Linked DNA regions of Homo sapiens. The protein of the gene in region 1 purifies or fractionates together with the protein of each later gene. This does not show direct contact. Each region holds a gene or a part of one and is shown in the gene's direction. Other genes may lie near its edges. The genes, in order: LPP, AGFG1, DBNL, ALAD, EGLN2 and RDX.

Region 1 (3,500 bases):
TTTGTGGTTCCATGTGAGTTTTAGAATTGTTTTTTCTATGTATGTAAAACTTCATTTTGGTATTTAGATAGGGATCTCACTGCATCTATAGATAACTTTGGGTAGGATATACATTCTAACAATATCAAGTCTTTCAACCTATGAACACAGATGTTTATCCGTTTGTTTGTGTCTTGTATAATTTCTTTCACCGATGTTTAATAGTTTTCAGTATATAATCTTTCTCCTCCTTAGATAACTTTTTTCCAAGTTTTTTATGCTACTGTAAGTAGAATTTTTTCCTTTCTTTCCTTTTCTGCTATTCGTCGGCAGTGCACAGATATACAACTGATTTTTGTGTTCATCTGTGAACACTTTGAAGGCAAGATTATGCCTTATTTGTGTTCTACATAGTAATAAATAATAATTAGCAGTTATTAATATTTTTCATTTATTCATTTTTATTGAGTTTCGTTGGCAGTAATTTTTGCTTTCTTTCTTTCTTTTTTTTCCTATTCTTTTTAGAGCTCCACTGGTTCAACAGCCTCTCCTCCAGTTTCGACCCCAGTCACAGGACACAAGAGAATGGTCATCCCGAACCAACCCCCTCTAACAGCAACCAAGAAGTCTACATTGAAACCACAGCCTGCACCCCAGGCTGGACCCATCCCTGTGGCTCCAATCGGAACACTCAAACCCCAGCCTCAGCCAGTCCCAGCCTCCTACACCACGGCCTCCACTTCTTCAAGGCCTACCTTTAATGTGCAGGTGAAGTCAGCCCAGCCCAGCCCTCATTATATGGCTGCCCCTTCATCAGGACAAATTTATGGCTCAGGGCCCCAGGGCTATAACACTCAGCCAGTTCCTGTCTCTGGGCAGTGTCCACCTCCTTCAACACGGGGAGGCATGGATTATGCCTACATTCCACCACCAGGACTTCAGCCGGAGCCTGGGTATGGGTATGCCCCCAACCAGGGACGCTATTATGAAGGCTACTATGCAGCAGGGCCAGGCTATGGGGGCAGAAATGACTCTGACCCTACCTATGGTCAACAAGGTCACCCAAATACCTGGAAACGGGAACCAGGGTACACTCCTCCTGGAGCAGGGAACCAGAACCCTCCTGGGATGTATCCAGTCACTGGTCCCAAGAAGACCTATATCACAGATCCTGTTTCAGCCCCCTGTGCGCCACCATTGCAGCCAAAGGTAAGAAACTCAGTAACATAAGGAGGAGAATACAGGGGTGCCTATCTTAGTCTGCCTTCCCCAGGAAGCGAAGCCTAAGGCAAAAGTGTGTGTGTTACTTTTATTTCACTGACAAATACAATCCCAGGGAAGGATGAGTGAAGCCAGAGAGGAGAGAGAGACTACTTAGTATGTTACTAATATGGCCACTGTTTAGTATCAAATGGAATTGCTTGCTCAATCTCAGAGAATCATCTTCCAAAGCCCACAGACACCATAGCATCTGAGGACAAAGTGTTCTGATGGAGAAAGAGAAAATAATTTATTTTTCACATCCTTCCCTATATTGGTTAAAGCTTCCCTCTGTTGTGCAGAAACTTCCTCTACACCTTGCATTTGCTTGGACATTAAACAGGTCTGTAGTATCTCAAGCCTCAGCAAGGGTAGTGATCTATGGGTGAGACATGTGGAGGGCAAAACTGAGTGAACTGCTGTCAGGCTGTGGCCCTGTGAAGGCGATTATAACTCCCGCAATGTTGGTACCACAGCGGTTGCTGGGCCAGAACAAGTGGCCAAGGACCCAGGAAATGGGTGAGGCCAAGCAGGTCTAAGATAATGCAAATGCCTTGGACAGTTTCTCCTTTGAGAAGGGGCTGCAGTATAATGCAGCTTGTTTGTGACCCCTTGTTTATTCATTTTACTAATCCTCCAGAAAGAATCTTATTCTTCAGCCTTTAGCACTATTAAGCAATGTTTAAAAACTCCTTATGAGTGACAGTTACTTCTTATTTGATTTAATTGTCCATATGTGGACCTTTTAAGTTAACACTCTCTGTTACTTCGTCTGAATAGGTAAGGTGTAATACTACACATGCCCACTCACCACAACTTGGATTTTTCATTAGTACTGGAACCAACACGATGTTGATTCCTCCCATTATGACTAGAGGAACCAATAAGAATAACTTGGAATCGGTGAAAATAGAGGAACTGAGCCAGTTTCCAGCCACTTGGGTTGGAAGAGTGCCCTTGCTTCTTTTCAGTTAGAACTGTGAGAAATCAGAAATTTGAGAGCCCTCAATTAGCTAGAAGTTCAATGGTAGTTTTGGGGGATGGATTGGGTAGAAGTTTGGACTGTATTTTTAAAAATTCTTTCCACATTTTTACAAGATTGTCCATTTCAAGACAGATCTATTCACATATTCAACATTGTATCAAAAATTTCCTTATAGGGTATTTACTAAACTGTTTTTCTTATATGAAAGCGTCTGCCATATTAATGGTGTCCTATGTGAATTTCACATTCTATAGGGGAATAGAGCTCTTCCTGACAGTGGGGACTGTGAAGAGCTGGAGAAATCCTATAGCCTTATGTGTGACCACTATATGAAATTGGCCAGCCATGATCCCTTTCCGATAGATAGATTCCAAATTAGAATTTTAAATGATTTTAAACATGACTCAGTTTCTTAAGTCTCTCTATGAAAAGAAATGTTATTACAGTTTTTTATTTCTTTTTAAAATGAATTTGTCCATAATAGCCAATCTGGACAGCCTTGCTCTTTGTTAATGTCGCAGTATATTTGCACCAGTGCCTCCTGGCCCAGTCAAGGGGAGTCTATTTTCAAAACAACCAGTTCAGAGAAACAGATTATTCAACTTAACCACAGTTTTTGTTTTCAACAATTGCAACAGATTTACCCAGGGAAGATTACAGTAAAATAAAATTTTAGGTCAGAACAACTGCTGTCAAGGTTTAAGTTCAACTAGACAGACAATTTAGCCCTGCCCAAAACAGGGTGACTGAAAGGATGGCTGAGTGATGTTCCTGAAGGAATGACATGGTGTCTGCCTTGTTGGAGGATTGTGTTATCCCACATAGGAACCAGACATGAGAGAAAGCAAAACTATGTGTCTTGATGAGACTCACCTGGTGAGAGGTACTGAGCTAGTCTTCAGATGTTGTTTTCTCACTAAGTCACTGGGCACTCTGGCCAGCCTCTCTTCAGCATTTGGAACCCATCCATTGGTGTAGGAAAAAGAATCAGCCCCCACTGCTAGAACTGGATCTAAAGTGCTGGGTCCAGCCACATCCCTAACATTTGGCCTGTCCTCACCAACTGACACAGGGAGATGGAATGAATTTTTATAAACCACTCATCAGAAAACATGGAACTTTATTTTACTTCTTATTTGAGCAAGGTGGTTATTCAAGATGATCTATTAGATGATTACAGATTTTGGATATCAGTAGATTTCATGTTATTTTTAAAATTTTTGATATATTTGTTTTTCAACAGTTTCATGTGTTTTCACATCATATTCGGCTGTGC
Region 2 (3,500 bases), on another chromosome or scaffold:
TAACATACAACTGTTAATTTGCTGGCACATAAGGCTTTGAATATGGGTCCACTGATTAGATTCTTTGTCCCCTAATATAACCCAGACTCATGCTGTACTATTTATGATTTTTAGCATTTTAATGTACTTATAAAACAGTTTGAATGCTGAATTCTTCTAGATTTTTATGATTTTTCTCTCAGTCTTTTACAGTTCTTTTCCATGGTCAAATAACAGCTTATCCTAGTGACTTGTTTTAGTCTCTAAAAATACTTAGTTTACATGGAAATAATTCTTCTCACTCATGCCATTGTTTTACATGACATTCACTTAAACTATATACTTACCAAGTACTGTACCAACTATATTACCAAATACTATACCAGACAAATTTTGATAAGCATAAAACTCACTCTCTCCTGAGAGAGGAGCAGGAGAAAGTGGCCTTCTAGCCATGAATGTTCATTGTGCAGTAGGCATTAACTTTAGGTTTCTCAGAGGGAAGGAGAAACATAGATTTAACCAGCAAATTGGATAAGAAGGACTCTTCTGTATAGTGCTGTGGGTACCTTTTATACTGGGAAAACTCCAGCATTCAGGTTGTGGTGACATCATTTGACCATAACTGAGTATAAAGGCATTATTGCCATGTTAAGCCTTTTTCTGTTCCCTATTCATTCATCCATCATTTTTGGCATGTGATTTTTAAACACTGGCTTTTAGTTTCAAAGTGGATAAAATACAGTTTAGATTAAATTTACATTAAATTTTATAATATTAGTGCATTATAAATGAAAAGAATTAAGACATTGTTTTAAAAGAACTTGCCGACCTCTGGATCTCAATTTGAAAATCATTGTCTTTTTAGAAACCTCTGTATCTGTTCCAATAGCATTCTTTGGAAAACAGGCAAATCTCCTTATTTGATATTTTCCTTCTTTTCTGTGCAGCGTGCATGATGTTCACATTTGTGAGAAACTCCTATGGAAATATTCGGGACTAGGTTTTACTACTCCCCCTCATTTTTTCCCCCACTTGAATGTGTTTTCTAATTCAAATCAAAGTGATGATTGTCTAGGGAAATACAACTTGGATACCTTTAATGTATGTAAAAACGTTTTAAAATCAGTTATAACTTTGAGTACTTACATTAATAGCATGTTCCTTGTGACATTTTTTACAACCTTACACACGAGAACTATTGCTAAAGACACCTGATTGAACATTAGAATGAAATTCATGAGCTATTCAGTGGGGACAGGAAACTTATTTGAGTTGTTTGAAATACAGAGAATTAATTTTTGTTTGTGTTAGAACATACTTTGCTCAAAGACTTCTGACTAAGATAGCAATCTTTTTGATTGACACCATACATGTTTTGTAGAGGTCATAATTATACCTTACTTTTATTCTGGTTGCTTGTTTTAAGAGGAATGTTAACAAACTGGAGCATGCTCCAAGGAATCTGATCAAGATGGTAAGGAAGTTTGAAACTATGTATTAGAGGAACATTTGCAGGAACCAAAAATGCTACTAGCTTAAAGAAGAAAAGATTAGACAGTGGGGGAGCTGTACACATGATCACTGTCATTGGGTAATTTAAGGCATTGGGAGAGGTAATACATTTATTTTTACGACTCTAGGGGGAGATGCAACACCAGTGTTTGTAAGTTATGGAGAAACAGTGTATGTTCAGAAAAGGAAAGAGGAATTTTCCTTGTAATTGTCAGATTCCAAAAATTCTTGTCTTTCCATATTTCTTATTTTATTTTATTTTATTTTTGAGATGGAGTCTCACTCCATCTCCCAGGCTGGAGTGCAGTGGCGCCAACTCAGCTCACTACAACTTTCATCTGTCAGGTTCAGGTGATTCTCCTGCCTCAGCCTCCCTGGTAGCTGGGATTACAGGCATGAGCTGCAATGAACTTCCTTCAATATGATCAGATGCATCAGCTACTTTTTTTTTTTTTTTAACTGTTTCTGGGTACTTTTATAATCTTCTGCTCTGGAAATGCTGCTGTCTAGGCCTGCTGTGCGGCTCTCATACCAGAACTTTTCTTCTATCTTCATTCTGGAAATTCCCTTCACTTGTAACCTATGTTAGATGCTCTGTTTCCAGGACCCCCAACATTTCCGTTAGCCTCCTGATGAAAGGTGAATGAGAGGTCATTTTTGAAAGCCACAAAGCTGAAAATGTTTTATTCTGCCTTCTTTTTAAAAATTAGTTTGCCTACATTCACAAAGGTGAAAATACTTTACCCTTGGAACTTTCAATATATTGCTTAGTTGTCTTCAAACCTTCAGTGTTGCTGTTGAGAAGTCTGATGCTATTCTTATTACTGAGTCTTTCTGACCCACTTCTTTTCTTCCCTCTTTTGGAGTATGTAAGATCTTCTTTTCTTCCTGCTGTTCAGAACCTCATATTGAAGTATTTTGGTGTAGGTCTTTTGTTCAGTGTTTTAGGCTTTTTTTTTTTTTTTTTTTTTTTTGAATTTGTTTGGAAACTCACGCTTTTTATAGTGCAGACATATTTTCTCCAATCTTCTTTTTTGGGGAATATAAAAGCCTGTGATGCCACTGTTCTGGGAACCAAGTTGAGGGAGGTGACTGTCATTCTGTGTGTTTGATCTTAGATAATCCTCCAGCTTTCCACATGGTCCCTAACAAGAGTCTTCAGCAGTGTCTTGAGTTTGAAGTCTCTGTGGTATAACCTCTTTAAAACTTTCCTTCAGACTTCCCACCTAGGGCTGGTGGGAGTATGCTTTTGGCTGTTAAGGAACTGGAGAGTCTAATGATTTCTGACCCCACTTTAAGCCCTCACCTGTATCCAGTTCCTTCAGTAAATCTTGATATGTCCTGTGGTGGGAATCAGTTTCCAGTTGGCTTCTCCCACCTTTGCAGAAGCTTCTGTTTTGGCTTTCTCCATAAAGTCACTTACTGCTGGTATTTTGTTTTTAAATCTTCCAAATTTTGTTATTCAAGAACTGTCGTGTGCTTTTGGACTCTTCTCTTGTTCTCTGACGCTCTGTTTATTTTAATTTTTGTGGGCACATAGTAGGTGTATGTATTTATGAGGTACACAAGATAGGAGTTTTGATACAGGCATGCAGTATGAGATAAACACATCATGGTAACCCTCTGTCTCTTGTGGGTTAATACCTTCTTATTCCTTTACTGTCATTTCGTTGTGGGTTTGGGCATGTGAAGAGATTTAGATTTTGTCCACTACTTTTTTTTTTTTTTTTTTTTTTGAGACAGAGTCTCGCTGTTGCCCAGGTTGGAGTGCAGGGGCGCGATCTCTGCTCACTGCAAGCTCTGCCTCCCGGGTTCACGCCATTTTCCTGCCTCAGCCTCCCACGTAGCTGGGACTACAGGCGCCCGCCACCTTGCCCCGCTAATTTTTTGTATTTTTAGTAAAGACGGGGTTTCACCATGTCAGCCAGGATGGTCTCGATCTCCTGACCTCGTGATCTGCCCGCTTCGGCCTCCCAAAGTGCTGAGATTACAGGCGTGAGCCACCG
Region 3 (3,500 bases), on another chromosome or scaffold:
TATGCCTTGCTGTTCAGAGGCCAGTGCACCATGTTTTTTCATGTTGATTTGAAACTTCCTTCGCCCTTCTTTCAAAAGGCCTCTGAACTGGGAATGAGCCTCTGCGCTGGGAACATTCTTAAAGGTGGCCTGGGGTAGAGAGGGATCAAGTCAGAGGGATAGGTGGCAGGCATTGAGCTTGGCTCTTATTATATTAGCTGCTGAGTCCCTTTTTTTTTTTTTTTTTTTTTTTGAGACAAGAGTCTTGCTCTGTCGCCCAGGCTGGAGTGAAGTGGCACGATCTTGGCTCACTGCAACCTCTGCCTCCCAGGTTCAAGTGATTTTCCTGCCTCAGCGTCCCAAGTAGCTGGGATTACAGGCACCCACCACCACACCCAGCTAATTTTGTATTTTTAGTAGAGACGGGGTTTCCCATGTTGGCCAGGCTGGTCTCAAACTCCTAACCTCAGGTGATCCACCCGCCTTGGCCTCCCAAAGTGCTGGGATTACCGGCATGAGCCATCGCAGCTGGTTGAGTCCCTTCTTGCAAGAGCTGGGTTGAGCTGCCATCTTCTGTTACCTGCTGCTTGTGCCAGCTTGCTATCTTCTGGGAGCCAGGGCTTTGTGGCCATCAAGAGGAATGGGCTTCTTTCCTCCAGGGAGTTCCCCCCAGCTCATGCTGGCAGTGTGCCACCTCCCAAATCTTTCTCTTGTTTTTCTGTGTTCTTTTCTCTAGTTCCTTTTCTCTGAGTGTTTCTCATTCAGTGTTTCTCTCCTGTATTCTGTCTCCCCTCCTGGTAAGGAGTGCCTTTTCCCGGAGGCCTGTCTCCTCCCTACCAACCAGATCCACTGGGCCTGGGTCTAATTTCTTCCATTTTTCTGAGGCATAAGTATCTCTGCCCAGTGGCACTGGCAAAGCCCTGGGGAAGCCAAGTTGAAGCTGATTTGGTTCCTGTCCGACTGTTTATCCCTGGAGCTTCTGTCTGGCCTGCCTCAGCAGGCCTGTGCTTTAGAGCCTGGGGAGATGACACACACTGGACTGGGTTTTGCCTTTGACTTATAGTCCAGTGGGTCAGTGCCTCCAGCCCATGTCCAGCAGCCCTGCTGGGGATGTTCAGTTGCTGCAAGGTTCATGCTATTAGCAAGCCAGAATGAATCTTTACCAGAGTTTTGTTTTTGTTTTTGTTTTTAAGAGTTGGGGTTTCACTCTGTTGTTTGGGCTGGAGTACAATGGCATCATCATGGCTCACTGTAGCCTCGACCTCCCAGGCTTAAGCAATCCTCCCACCTCAGCCTCCCGAGTAGTTGGGACTACGGGCATATGCCACCACGCCTGGCTGATTTTTGTATTTTTGGTAGAGACAGGGTCCCACCATGTTGCCCAGGCTGGTCTCAAACTCCTGGGCTCAAGCGACCCTCCTGCCTCAGCCTCCCAAAGTCCTGGGATTACAGACACGAGCCACCCACCTGGCCCAGAGTTCTGTTCTTTTTTTTGAGATGGAGTCTCACTCTGTTGCCCAGGCTGGAGTGCAGTGGCGCGATCTTGGCTCACTGCAAGCCCCGCCTCCCGGGTTCATGCCATTCTCCTGCCTCAACCTCCTGAGTAGCTGGGACTACAGGTGCCTGCTGCCACGCCCAGCTGATTTTTTGTATTTTTAGTAGAGATGGGATTTCACCGTGTTAGCCAGAATGGTCTCGATCTCCTGACCTCGTGATCCACATCTGCCCGCCTCGGCCTCCCAGAGTGCTGGGATTACAGGCGTGAGCCACTGCGCCCAGCCCAAAGTTCTTATGAATAATTAATCTTTCAGGAAAAGAAAGCCATGGCCCCATGTCACCCATGGAGAGATAAGGCTCTGCTAGATAGAAAACTTGCTCATGGGTACCTGTCCGTGAGGGGCTTGGCAGGTTCATGGCTTTAACTGTGTGATTTCATGTCGTGTCATTCCTTTGTGGTTTCTGATAAACACAACCTGTGGTAGTCTGTGTTTACCAAAGAGTCTCAAGCCTGGAAGGACCTGCTGCCCTACCCACCAGGCTTCACTGGAGCCAGGGCAGACGTGCACAGGAGTGGTGGGCAGCCTTCCAAGGGGCCCAGTGTGTGTATTTCTCCGACTTGCTTCTCCTTTTGGGTGCTCTGGGTTCAGGAATATGTAGATATGTTTTGTCTCTTCAAATCCATATACCTAGTGGCCAGGTGAGTATTTGACACATGAATGTATAGCAGTCATTGGGAAACTCCACAGCTCATGTTTTCCTCATAGTAGATGTGTGCTCCCATCTCCATGGCTTTGTCCCTCACAACCCCCACCCCATGGTAAGTCAGGCCAGTGTCCTCCCAGCTGCAGAGCTGAGAAGGCTGCACAGTTGCCTACTGAGAACCTGCCTAGTGGGTCAGAGCAAAGTGAGAACGGGCCTGTGCCCACCCACAGTGTTACTGTCAGCCCAAGCTCTTTGGGATGTAGTGGAAAGTCATGGTGGATACGGTGAGGAGAGATGGAACCCAAGGTGCTGGCTACAGAGCTCACTTGTGTTTCGTTTCAGGGCTCTCTTTACCTATGAAGGCAACAGCAATGACATCCGCGTGGCTGGCACAGGGGGTGAGTATGACTCCAAATGGACTCAGGGACACCAGGAGGTAGGAGGGTGACGACGAGGGGTCAGCGCACTCAGCTGTCTTGGTCCACTGAGCCACATGGGGCTTCCAGTGCTCACTGGCCACTTCTGGCAGGCCTTAGGTTTCAGATATGTGTAAGTGAAAACATTCCTCCTTGGTTCTCCTTCCCTCTGGGTGCAGGGGAGTGCTTTCTCTTTGTCTACTTGGGGAGAGCTGAGAGGGAAACAGGCCTCTCCAGCTTGTGGGCAGCCTGCGTTGGGAGCTGCGGTGGGAAGCTCACCAGTCCCAGAACTGGTGCTGGTGGAAAGAAAGTCCACAGACATATCTTCTTCTCCCTTTGTCCTGCCCTGGTCTTGTGCCGAGTGCTTGCAGGGGCCCCATCCTCACTGGGAGAGGCAGTATCACTGCAGATAGTCACGGGGGAGGCTCTGGAGGTCTCTACAGGAAGGACAGGCTCTTGGCCAGCACAGAGCAGAGGTTGTCAGGGTAGGCTTCGTCAGAGTGTGACCTGTGGGCCCCTCAGCTGACACCCGTGACTGCTCCTCCTCCAGAAGTTGCCTGACCCCTCCCTCTGTCCTGAGCTGGACATGGCTTCATTGTTCAATGAACACTCGGAGTGGTTCTCCACGGTTTGATGTCTGTTGTTGGTAGAAAGCCCCTTCCTTTCACAATCTTTCTGGGAGGTGTCCCCTTTCTAGAAGGATTGCCATTGAACAGTAGACATGTGGTGTGGCAGGTGACTGGGAGTTGCAGAGATCAACAACTTGAGAGTTTCCTGTCATCCCCAGTGGCACAGGACAGGGCTCTGCCACAAATGCAACAATTTGCTGTCCCCAGAGTGGGGCTCATGACTGCCTCCACTCATACGGAGCCCTGTAGATGAAATACCTGATCAGCTCTTCCT
Region 4 (4,232 bases), on another chromosome or scaffold:
ATTGTTTTCCCAATCCGTAAAGTGAGAATAGTAACATCGTTGCTGTCAAGATTAGATAAATGAATGTAAAATGCATGGTACTGTCCCTGACTCTTTAATGCACAGCAAACATTATTTGCTTTCTATCCCCTTCCTTGTTGAATACAGATCAGAACTCCAGTAGCTGGAAACTAAGCAGTGTCATATTTCCCTAGCCTTACGCCGCTAGGCCCCTTAAATTTAAAATATAAAGTATACAACAGGTTTGGGGTACAGATTTTGAGAAATTTAAAAAAAAATTTTTTTTTGAGACAGAGTCTCCCTCTGTCACCCAGGCTGGAATGCAGTGGCATGATCTCAGCCCATTACAACCTCCGCCTCCCGGGTTCAAGCGATTCTCCTGCCTCAGCCTCCCGAGTAGCTGGGATTACAGGAGCCCGCCACCACGCCCGGCTAATTTTTTGTATTTTTAGTAGAGACAGGGTTTCACCATGTTGGTCAGGCTGGTCTTGAACTCCTGACCTCAAGAGATCCGCCCGCCTTGGCCTCCCAAAGTGCTGGGATTACAGGCGTGAGCCACCGAACCGGGCTGAGAAATAAAATCTGAGAATAAGTGTAATGTAACCCACTAGTGTCCTCTACATTTGAAAGTCAACTTTTCAATAATCCCTGAAGAACCACCTGAAAGGCATTGCTTCGCTAGGGCGATGATGCCCGATCGCCATTTTACTCATCCAATCCTACTGGTTTACCCAGGCCCCATAAGCCTCACCAGATCCCTCTTGCCTCTGCACATCTCCAATCTCCATAAAGACCTTTGATCGGATCTATCATTGTACCTATCATAGGTCTGATGCCCCTATCAAGACTTGGAGTTTTCCTAAACGCCCATGTCTTTCACATCACATCTCTCAACTCATAGCATTGCCGTACCCTGAGAAATAAATGAAGCTGGTACAAATTTTCTCTGAAAACTTGGAAGCCTGGCGCTGAACTCAACAACTTTAGCTTAGTCCGCAAAAATGGACTTAGCTAATACTGTGTTAGGCATAATGGTGCTGTTTTAACGGCTTTGACATCCAATTATTCTTTCACCAAGCCATTAACCAGAGCCAAGTTTGCCCTAGGCTGGGCAAAGGAATGCTGTGAAGTGAAACCTGGGCTGTAACCGCCTCCGAGGCCGGCTCACACCCAGGGACCCTCCCAAGCGGTTCCTGCGCCCCCTCGTGGCCTCCCTCCTGCAGTTCGCTGCACAAGCGCAGGGCCCGGAGCGGGGACGGGCGGGCCCTCCAGGCCCTCGACACACCCAATTGGCCAGGCCTCGTTGCGTGTGGGCGGGGCCGCGGCTGGAGCGGAGGAGCCCCCCAGAAGACCGCCTTCAGGGGGCGTGGCCTGGACTGTGGAGGGGGCGGACCGTGGGGAAGCTGCTTCCGGGTGAGCCCCCCCCGCTCTTACGCGGTCTGTGGGAGACCGGAGCGGGAGACAGCGGTGACAGGAGCAGCGGCCGGGAGCCCTTAGGGAGGCAGGTGAGCGGGGGCTGGATGCGGGGAGATAGCGGGCCTGGAGGGCGGCTCCAGGGCGAGGCGGGGACTGTGGCACCAAGAGTCCTGCGTCCCCAGATTGTGCTGTGCGCCTGAAGCCCTGGCGGTGCAGCCGTGCACGGAGTCCCGTGGAGCGTTTGTTTGGGCTGGATTATCCCGCTGCAGCCGAGGTTGGGGGCCCGGGTTCGGGGCTCCGCACCTCTTCTCTGGGGTTCACCCTCTCGGATACCGCCTGGGCAGACTCCATCGATGCAGAACCCGAGGTGCGGGTGGTGGTTGGTGGGGGGGTAGGGAGGTGAAAACAATAACAGCCGTTTTGTACTAAGCGTTGCGTGCATTGACCATTCATTTATTTTATTTATTTATTTATTTTTGAGACGGAGTTTCGCTCTTGTTGCCCAGGCTGGAGTGCAATGGCGCGATCTCAGCTCACTGCAACCTCCGCCTCCCGGGTTCAAGCGATTCTCCTGCCTCAGCCTGCCAACTAGCTGGGATTACAGGCGTGTGCCACCACGCCTGCTAATTTTTGTATTTTTAGTAGAGATGGGGTTTCTCCCTGTTGGTCAGGCTAGTCTCGAACTCCCGAGCTCAGGTGATTCGCCCACCTCGGCCTCCCAAAGTGCTGGGATTACAGGCGTGAGCCACCACGCCCGGCCTGACCCATTCATTTCTTACAACAACCCATTGAGGTCGGTTCTAGTCCCCATTTACTAAACGAAGAAACTGAGGTCACACAACTAGAAAGCTACAGAACTAGGATTTGTACCCACATCTATCAGACTCCAGAGCCCACATACTTAACCATCCTGCTACCAACAGCAGCCAGGCCCAGAGTCTGGCTCACCCAAAGCTCTCCACAAGCCCAACCTGCTGGGAAACAGATTTGATATCTATCCTTAAAGTATGGAGGTGTCATGGTGGGCACTGAGGACTGGGCTGCTGGAGACCTTCCCCCAGATCTGCCGCTGACCCACTGCGTGATCCTGGGCCTGTGTCTACCCCTCTCTGAGCCCAGTTTCACCCTTGTTTCAGTGATACAATCAGCAAACTTTAAGAAGACTCTTAGCCAAGATATTCTAGGATTCTGGGAATGGCAGCTTCTCCTACGTCTAAATGGCTAACCCCAGAGGCGATCAGGCTCTTCAAAGCCCCAGGGCAAGGCTGGGGTCTCATTCTTCTCTTTAATCCCTGTGTCTAGCACTTCAGCAGGCCCATAGTAGATATTCAAGAAATGTGGGTTGGCTGAATAAACACTTCATCTCTTTTCAGAACTGCATGACAGCTGCTCTCCTGGGCCTTTGTGGGGCTTTGGATTTCTCAGTTCTGGCCACCTTCTATCTAGCTGGCTCTCCTGACTGCCTCCTCCCTGGCCAGTGGCAGAGCCTGCCAGGGCTGGCAGCAGGTCCTAAGCCTCTGTGCGAAGACCCACAGCCTCTGGAATCCTCAGCATAGTACAACTTGCAGGGGTGGGGGGTGGCACATGAAGCTCATAGCCCCTCCTGGTAGCAGTGCTCAGGGCCCAACTTCAGTTACTCCCAGTTTGGGGATGTTGCCTTCCATGGGAGGAGATACTTTCATATTAAATCTGAAACACTTCTTATCCTTCACTGTCCCCTCTTCCATGAAACCACCCTTGACTCAGAGACACAGTCCCTCTGACAGCACCTGGTCCACCCCTCTACTCTGGCAGCCCGGTGGTGATTATTTTGTTTTTCCTCCACCACATAACCTGCTGGAAGGCAGGGACTCCACTTCAGAAATCTTGGAAAACCCTGTGGCCCACAAGGGTTTGAGCTCATATTCCCATCTGGTGAGGTGCAGAAGGCACAGAGCTGTGCCAGGACATCTCGTTCCAACCCAGCCCCACTCCTAATAGTAATAAAAGTAGCTACATGTTTACTGTGCAGCTACTTGGTGCCAGACACCTACCTTATCCCTATCAATAATCTCCACAGCCTTGCAAGTTAGAGATATCATGCCTATTTTGTAGATTATGAAATGAACACTGAAAGGTCAATTACTTTGCCCAAAATTACACAGCAGAGCATAGACCAAACCTGGGACTGTCTGACCCTGAAACATGGATCTTTCTGCACCGCCCTATACTCTGCGTCCCAGCAAAGCTAACCTGTCTGATGTGGTTGGGCAGAGGTGCTGGACCTCCTGGCGGCTCGCTCCTGTCTTCAGTGTGGTAATGTCACAGGCATTTAAATTGTGGTTTGCAAGCTCGCTTGATTTGGGAGAAGTGCCCTCCCAGTCTGTGAAATTCTCCCAAACTCTAAGGGCCTTTTTGCAAAGCAAAACCCACCCTGCATTTGGCTCTGCCAATATGTGATTCAGGGGGTGTTTTCCCACTCACAGAATGGAGTGGGAAACTCCACTTATTAAGTACCTCTTACAATGGAATGACTCTATGGTGTAGGTATCAGGGCACTGAAATAGAAGCCAGGAGCTGCAGGGTCAGTTTATAGCTCTGTATGTCACTCACTGTGATCTCCAAAAGTCCCGTTGCCTCTTTATACCCCATTTTCCACATTAAAGTGTAAGGGATTAAACAGGATTGGCAATTTTCAAGCTTTTAATATTTTCAGCACTGACAGCCGTTTCTCAAATCAAATCTGTCTCTGAATCTTAAAATTCAAAAACAGATCAAAGTGGACTGCTGTAGTGAGACTGTTCCCTTTACTCTAACCCTGCCCCGGTCTCAGGCTC
Region 5 (3,372 bases), on another chromosome or scaffold:
GAGTGAGCCCTGGGCTGAGGGAAGGAAAGGGGTGCTGCCCGCTGGGCCGAGTGCTTGGCCCTGGACTGCATTGTGCCCTGGGTCCCCACTGTGGCATCTGCATCGAGGACAGTCTCCTGGGGGTGGTACTGGGTGGCTGCCTGTTGGCCCAGGTGGAGCTCATCCCCATGTCTCCCACCCTTCACTGTCCCAGTCCCTGCCCTCCATTCCCCCTGTCCTGTGTGTCACTTCCTCCCTACCCATGTCTGTCTCTTCCTCTGCCTTTATGTGTTTGTTCTTAGTCCCTTTTTCTTTTTGCTTTAGAACAATAGTTCTTAATGGTATTTTGGAGCCTGGGTCTTTTTGAGAATCTGTCAGAGGCCACAGATCCTCTCTTAAGACAAATGCTCATTTGCTTGGAGTTTCCGGGCAGTTGTCAAGGCCTCATGGCCTCCAGCTGCCTGTTCAGGAACCTGGGGTCAGGAGCCCAGCACAGGACAGTGGTCCATAGGGCCTTTCCGGGCTGCTGACAGGATCATTGTCTTCATGGGTGGTGTGGGGGCCTGGCCTTGAGTCCAAGGCTTGGTGTCCTTTGGACAAGGCCCTGTGGGGAGTGCCCACTGCTCAACACAGTGATGCCTGGCTGGCTGATGGCACGGGCAGTGTTGTGCCCTGCAGGCGTGAGGCTGAGCTCCTGATGTCCTCTGCCTCCTCCTGCAGATCCCATCTTGGGTTCTGCTTCTGTGTGGCTTTCCTCTCAGGCTGGAGCTGGCTCAGGGACCAGGGCTCCCCCGGGGCCAAGGCCTGTTTCCTCCCCACCCCAGCTGGAACTTGTTCTACTTCCCTCTCCCTCCCGTTACTTGATAGCTGAGCCAGAGCCGGCCCCTCCCTGGGCTTGGCTCCTGTGCGGGCGGGATCAGTGGCCTCCCTGGCTCAGCATCTTCACCCCAGGTTGGCTGTCGTCCTCGTCAGGGGGAGACCAGAAGGGCTGAGTGGCCCAGATGGGACACTGCTCTGAGCCTCAATTTGCTGATCCACGGAATACGAAAACCAGGTTACATCCCCAGTGAGTCTGGCAGTTTGGGGAGGGGAGAGTAGGAGAAGATCTCTTGTGTTTTGGTGCCTCTGGTGCCCACTTTCTATGTGGTTGGGGACAGGGCCCCAGCGAGGATTGGGGAAGGGGCGTGTTTGGACTTTTTTAGCCCTAGGTGACCTTGATTGTCCTAGGGAAGTAAGGACAGGCCAGGCTGGACTGAGAACATAGGGGAGGAGCCCTCCCCTCCCCAGTGAGACAGCAACTCCAGGCTTTCCCGCTTTTAGATGGGCCCCATCTGGACTCTCTCCTGTACTCCAGAGTAAGGCTGTGGGGTGCTCAGGTGGGCTGCAGCAGTTGCCGTGGGGACATGGATCACCAGTGTGGCTAGAGCCAGTAGAAACGTGCTTCTTAGTCGTTCTGAGTGGAGCTCCTGTGTCATCCTTCCTTCCCCCAACTCCCTGGTTGGGGACAGGTGCTCCGTTGACCTGTAGGTGGGAGAGAGTTGACTCCCACTGGCAGCAAGGGCTACCAGAGGGGACCCCAGGGAGAGTCCAGCTTGCTTGGTTTGCTCCTTGAAGAGCAGCTTGGAGGTGGGACAGTCACAGGCTTCTGACTGGGGTGTGTGTGTAGTGGGGGTGGGGCTCTTGGCAGGCAGATTGTCACCAATAGCCTTTAAGTCTTTGGTCTCCTGGCCCTGGTCCCACCTGTCCCTCCCCTAGGTGGGAGGGGTGGAGAGCAAGTTTCCTGAGGCCTTCCCCTGTGAGGGCAGGAAGTAGATACTTTCCTTGGGGCCAGAGGATGCTTTCACCCCCAAGGTGTGTATATGTGGGGGAAGGGTGGGGCCCTAAAGAGCAGGTTCCTGTTTCTGTGTGAGTCCCATGTGCTTGGTGGGAGGCGCTGTGTGAGAATGTACAGGGCAGGAGGAAACATAGCAGGGCTGGGGTGCAGAGGAGGCCCAGAGCAGTGCACTCCAGTCTGCAGGTACTGCACTGGGCACTGGGGAGACCAACCTGGCCCCAGGGGCTTCCCTGTGGCTGCCTTCCAGGGCAGTACTAGGTAAACAGGTGCCTGTGCTGATGCCATGTTGCTAGGAGTGGAACGGACAATCAGCCGGAGTACTCAAGGTGACCCTTGGTCTCTGAATCCTGAATAACAAAGAGGGTCAGAAGGAAGAGTGTCCCAGGCCAGTGCTGAGGCCTTGTGGTGGCGATGAGCTCAGCCTGTTGAGGCATGGAGCAGAGTGATGGGAGAGGCACATGAGGTTGGGGGCCTTTGAGGCTGTGGTTGGGAATTTGTATTTTCTCAGGATGGAGTGAAGACCTGGAGAGGAGGGGCTCTGGCTGCTGTGTGGGGATGAATTGTGGGAAGAGGGTGCAGCACTGGACCCCTTCCCTGCCACCCATCCACGTGCATCATCAGTGTAATCTCTGATTGGATTCCTAATTGGGGAGGTCTTGCCCATCTCTAGTCAGTAACTCACTGTTTCTAAGCCTCCTGGACCATGGCCCAATTCTTCTCCCAGTGAGGTGGTTGCTCAGAGTGCCGACCCTTCCATAGGGAGTGAGCAGTGCAAAGAAGGTGCCCCCTCCTGAACCTTGAAGTGTAGCCATTAGGGTTTTCCCTGGGGGGCCTTCTCACTAATTGTACTCTGGTGCTGCCAGAGAGAAGGTTGTCAGCTTCCCACTGCTAGGTGGCAGTAGATGGTGGCAGCCCTCTCTTTCCAGGGCAAGGTCTGGTGGATGAGGTGCACATGGTTAATGCAGAGCAGCTTAACATCCACCACAGAGGGTGAGCCCTGGGATAATGTGTTGGGAGGCGTCCTGGGGAGGGTGAGGATTGAAGCAGCCCAGTCTGCTGTGGCGTGCGTGCTTGGCAAGCATCCTGTTGTGGCAGTGGCCACTGATGTTTGATCGTGAATGTTTATCTTGGGACTGTCTTGCTGGGCCGGGCCCATAGGTGTAGCTGAGCATTCGTGGGGAATGGACGCCAGCAGAGTTGTACCAGGGCAGAGAGGTCAGGGCAGAGAGGTCAAGACAGATGGTCCGGGCTGGGGAGAAGTTGAAGGGTCCTTGTGCCAGTCCTCCCCTTTTTGTGTGCTACCTCATCTTGCCACTGCAGTGACTTTGGGCAGAGGGTGGGACAGGGACCTTTTAAAATTTTTAAATGGCATTTCAGCCTGTGCTCCAGTTCTCCATGTGGCAGGCACTGTGCTGGCTGTCTTCCCAGACACTTGTTATCTTGTTCACTTGTTCCACAACAACCTGTGAAATAGCTGTGAGCTCCATTGGATCCATGGATGAGGAACCTGAGACCAGGAAGTCACCTGCCTGATGCCACAGCTCATGTGGCAGCACTGA
Region 6 (3,500 bases), on another chromosome or scaffold:
CAAGAACGAAAACGAGCAAAAGAAGAAGCAGAACGACTTGAAAAGGAGCGTCGAGCTGCTGAAGAGGCAAAGTCTGCCATAGCAAAACAAGCTGCCGACCAGATGAAGAATCAGGAGCAGCTAGTAAGGAACTGTCTTCTTAGAGAAAAAAGTTTAAATAAAAGCATAGAGTGAACCCTCTAAAAAAGAAAAAAAGAAAAGCAACCATTTTGTGCTTTCTGGAGAGCAAGCCAAAGATAACATGTAACTTAATAACAAAATGTAGACAAAAACCTAGAAAATTTATTTCTGCCTAAACAAAAACCTAAAAATACAAAAGAATAAGGCATTTTTCTATAGATTATTTGTAAATGGAGTCTACTGTCAGCAAAAGGTTCTGATTCACTTTGACATTGGACAGGTTCGGTAATAAGTCAGTTGGCGTCTTTTGCTTTAGATAAATTAATATGTTATAGTTATATAATATAGATATATGTTATAGTTATATAATATATTATAGATATATAATATGTTATAGTTCCTATGAGGCCATAATTGGTTGGGTTTTTTTATTTAGTGGACTTGCAAATAATTAGATGTAAGCGTGTCACTTAAAAGATCCTGGATTTAAATATTAGTTCACACATGTACTTGCTATGTATGTGTCTTTGGGTCTTTCTGAGCCTCAGTTCCCTCCCTTTGAAAAGAGGAATGATGGCCGGGCACAGTGGCTCACGCCTGTAATCCCAGCATTTTGGGAGGCCGAGGCAGGTGGATCACCTGAGGTCAGGAGTTCAAGACCACCCTGACCAACATGGCGAAACCCTGTCTCTACTAAAAATACAAAATTAGCCAGGCACAGTGGTGCACGCCTGTAATCCCAGCTACTCGGGAGGCTGAAGCAGGAGTATTGCTTGAACCTGGCAGGCGGAGGTTGCGGTGAGCTGAGATTGTGCCACTGGGCTCCAGCCTGGGTGACAGAACGAGACTCTGTCTGAAAAAAAAAAAAGGAGGAATGATACTACCTGTTAATGATACTACCTGTTAGGATTATTGGGGTATTAAATGAGATGATTTGACAAAGTGCCATTTAAAGTATATAGCATTAGATAAATATTTTATCTTTTGTGGACTTTAACAAATAGTTTATTGATGGAAATTTTTTAAAAAAGCTTTTAAGTTACACATTTTAAGTTCCTGCTACTGAAAGCAGGATTAACTAGTCTGTAGAATAATAGTAATTTTTTAATTTTGTCTCCTTAGCTCATTACCTAAAGGACTTATTGTAAATAAGCTATTTAAGATCTTAAGAAATACTGTATTTTTTTAAATGGAAGGCTAAGAAAAACATAAACAGCCTAAGCATGTGCATTAAAACTTTGTTGACTTATAAGATTATTCAAAATATGTTATTTTAATTTTGGAATTATATTGTTTACTTTAGGCAGCAGAACTTGCTGAATTCACTGCCAAGATTGCACTTCTAGAGGAAGCCAAGAAGAAAAAGGAAGAGGAAGCTACTGAGTGGCAACACAAAGTAATCATTTATTCATTTACTAGCTTTTATTGAATAGCTTTTATACCCAGGATTATGCTGACTTTGTAGTGATAAGTGTAAGATACTGTCATAATTTAGAGTGGGAAAGATACTCGTGTTATGTGTATTGTAAATATCTATCTACAGATATAAACCAAGTACTTTGGGAACACAGAAGAGGTGATTAATTTCTGGGGGACCAGAGAGTTGTCGGGAGACCCATATACATTTAAGCTGGGTCTTGAATAATGAATTAAATTTTGGGGGTACAAAAGATTGGGATGTAAAATTGGGAATAGTTAGAGACTGAAGAAGTAGTCATTCTAGACAGAGGGAACTGAATGAGTATAGGAAGTATGAATGTATATAATAGATTTGAGGATAACCAATAAGCAGCCGAGGCTTAGTGTTGTTCAGAAATGTTAGGAGATGTGGCCCTCAAGTTTGATAATAGGGAATTGTGAAAGGCTTTAAATAAATGCTCTGCTACAGCAAGGCAGTGGGAGTATCGATTGACTTGGGGCTTAGAAGATTTCAAAACAGGATTGTAACATGATCAGATATGATTTTATAAAAACCATGTAGTGATCAGTGTGAAGAAAGGATTGGGATAGTGGATACTTAAGAGATAAAGACCCAAACTGAGGATGTGAAAATGAGAATAAAGAGGAATGGGAAGATATAAGAGACATTTTGTGGTCACAAAAAGGCATGGGAACCAGTGATTGGATATGAAGTTGAATTATTTTTATTTTTTTAGAGACATGGTCTTACTCTGTGTCCCAGGCTGGAGTGCAGTGGCACAATCATAATTCATTGCAGCTTTGAACTCCTGGGCTCAAGGGATCCTCCCACCTCAGCCTCTGCAGTAGCCGAGACTACAGGCATGCACCATCATTTTTATTTTTGTTGAGAATGGAGGTCTTGCTGTGTAACCCAGGTTGGTCTTGAACTGCTGGCCTCAAGCAGCCCTCCCATCTCAGCCCCCAAAGTGCTGGGATTGTAGGTGTAAGCCACTGTGTGCAGCTGACACCGAGATTTCTAATATGAGTCCTAAGTAGATGAAACCACTGTTGTCTAAAGTAGCACACAATTGTAAAATCAGGCTTTGGTTGGAGAGTGGGGGAATATAAGATAATGAGAGTTTAATTCAAACAACATTAACTCTTAACTGAAAAGATAATTTTTTTACCCCCAAAGATGATATTTAGTTTTAGAAGATGATTTTTCTACAATAAAATGTACTTATACAGAAAACAGTTTTCTTGCACTCTTAAGTAAATCTTTGTAGCAGTTTAAATTTCATTGGGTAATTTTATATGTATTGAAAATTAGTTATATATAAATAAAACTACAAAAGGAATGCTACTGTTAATTTCCCAGTTACTCTACTTGTTTATTAGAATTTTTTAGATCCCTTTTAGGGATGATTTATGAAATTTAGAGACACATAAACTTTAAAAAATTAGCATATTACAGATATCAAGTCTGTGAATTATAGAAAATTAGAAAATGCACACAAAAGACAATTGTATTCCCATAAACTAGGGGAAATACTGCAAAACCTTAGTACATATTCTTCCAGGATACTTCCTGTTTATATATTCAACATGAAATCTTACTGTATGTACTATTTCATTTTAGTCAATTTTCATCTCAGAATATTAGACTATATTAAGAATTTCCCAAAAAGTCTCATAGCTAATTTGCCAGACAAGTGTTCAGAGGACTTTGCATTGTCTGTATTTGCTGTAAGTCTCTTTTAATGGAGGGCAGTTTCTCTTTTTATTATTTTGATTTATTGAAGGGACCTACAGAATGTCTCACCTCCTATATTTGTTTAGTTACTTCCTTGTGTCATTGACCTTATCCTTTAACTCCAGTATTTCCTTTGAACCAGAAGTTAGATCTAGAACCTGGGGAATTCAAATTAAATGTTTTGACTACAGTGCATCAAAGGTGAGACTTCCATATAATTGAACAT

The links.
Region 2: the proteins of LPP (region 1) and AGFG1 fractionate together in Homo sapiens (co-fractionation; one large-scale study listed by BioGRID). This does not show direct contact.
Region 3: the proteins of LPP (region 1) and DBNL fractionate together in Homo sapiens (co-fractionation; one large-scale study listed by BioGRID). This does not show direct contact.
Region 4: the proteins of LPP (region 1) and ALAD fractionate together in Homo sapiens (co-fractionation; one large-scale study listed by BioGRID). This does not show direct contact.
Region 5: the proteins of LPP (region 1) and EGLN2 purify together in Homo sapiens (affinity purification with western blotting, with the first as the bait; one study listed by BioGRID). This does not show direct contact.
Region 6: the proteins of LPP (region 1) and RDX fractionate together in Homo sapiens (co-fractionation; one large-scale study listed by BioGRID). This does not show direct contact.

The regions. Positions count from the first base shown.
Region 1 is NC_000003.12:188,608,657-188,612,156, forward strand, and holds part of LPP (lipoma-preferred partner), read left to right. Parts: intron 1-504; coding exon 505-1,188; coding exon of another isoform or gene 1,189-1,209; exon of another isoform or gene 1,210-3,500. UniProt on the Homo sapiens protein: May play a structural role at sites of cell adhesion in maintaining cell shape and motility. In addition to these structural functions, it may also be implicated in signaling events and activation of gene transcription.
Region 2 is NC_000002.12:227,478,656-227,482,155, forward strand, and holds part of AGFG1 (arf-GAP domain and FG repeat-containing protein 1), read left to right. Parts: intron 1-3,500. UniProt on the Homo sapiens protein: Required for vesicle docking or fusion during acrosome biogenesis. May play a role in RNA trafficking or localization.
Region 3 is NC_000007.14:44,047,702-44,051,201, forward strand, and holds part of DBNL (drebrin-like protein), read left to right. Parts: intron 1-2,523; coding exon 2,524-2,579; intron 2,580-3,500. UniProt on the Homo sapiens protein: Adapter protein that binds F-actin and DNM1, and thereby plays a role in receptor-mediated endocytosis.
Region 4 is NC_000009.12:113,398,485-113,402,716, reverse strand, and holds the start of ALAD (delta-aminolevulinic acid dehydratase), read left to right. Parts: upstream 1-1,432; 5' UTR 1,433-1,505; exon of another isoform or gene 1,506-4,232.
Region 5 is NC_000019.10:40,802,191-40,805,562, forward strand, and holds part of EGLN2 (prolyl hydroxylase EGLN2), read left to right. Parts: intron 1-3,372. UniProt on the Homo sapiens protein: Prolyl hydroxylase that mediates hydroxylation of proline residues in target proteins, such as ATF4, IKBKB, CEP192 and HIF1A. Target proteins are preferentially recognized via a LXXLAP motif.
Region 6 is NC_000011.10:110,234,115-110,237,614, reverse strand, and holds part of RDX (radixin), read left to right. Parts: coding exon 1-123; intron 124-1,423; coding exon 1,424-1,516; intron 1,517-3,500. UniProt on the Homo sapiens protein: Probably plays a crucial role in the binding of the barbed end of actin filaments to the plasma membrane.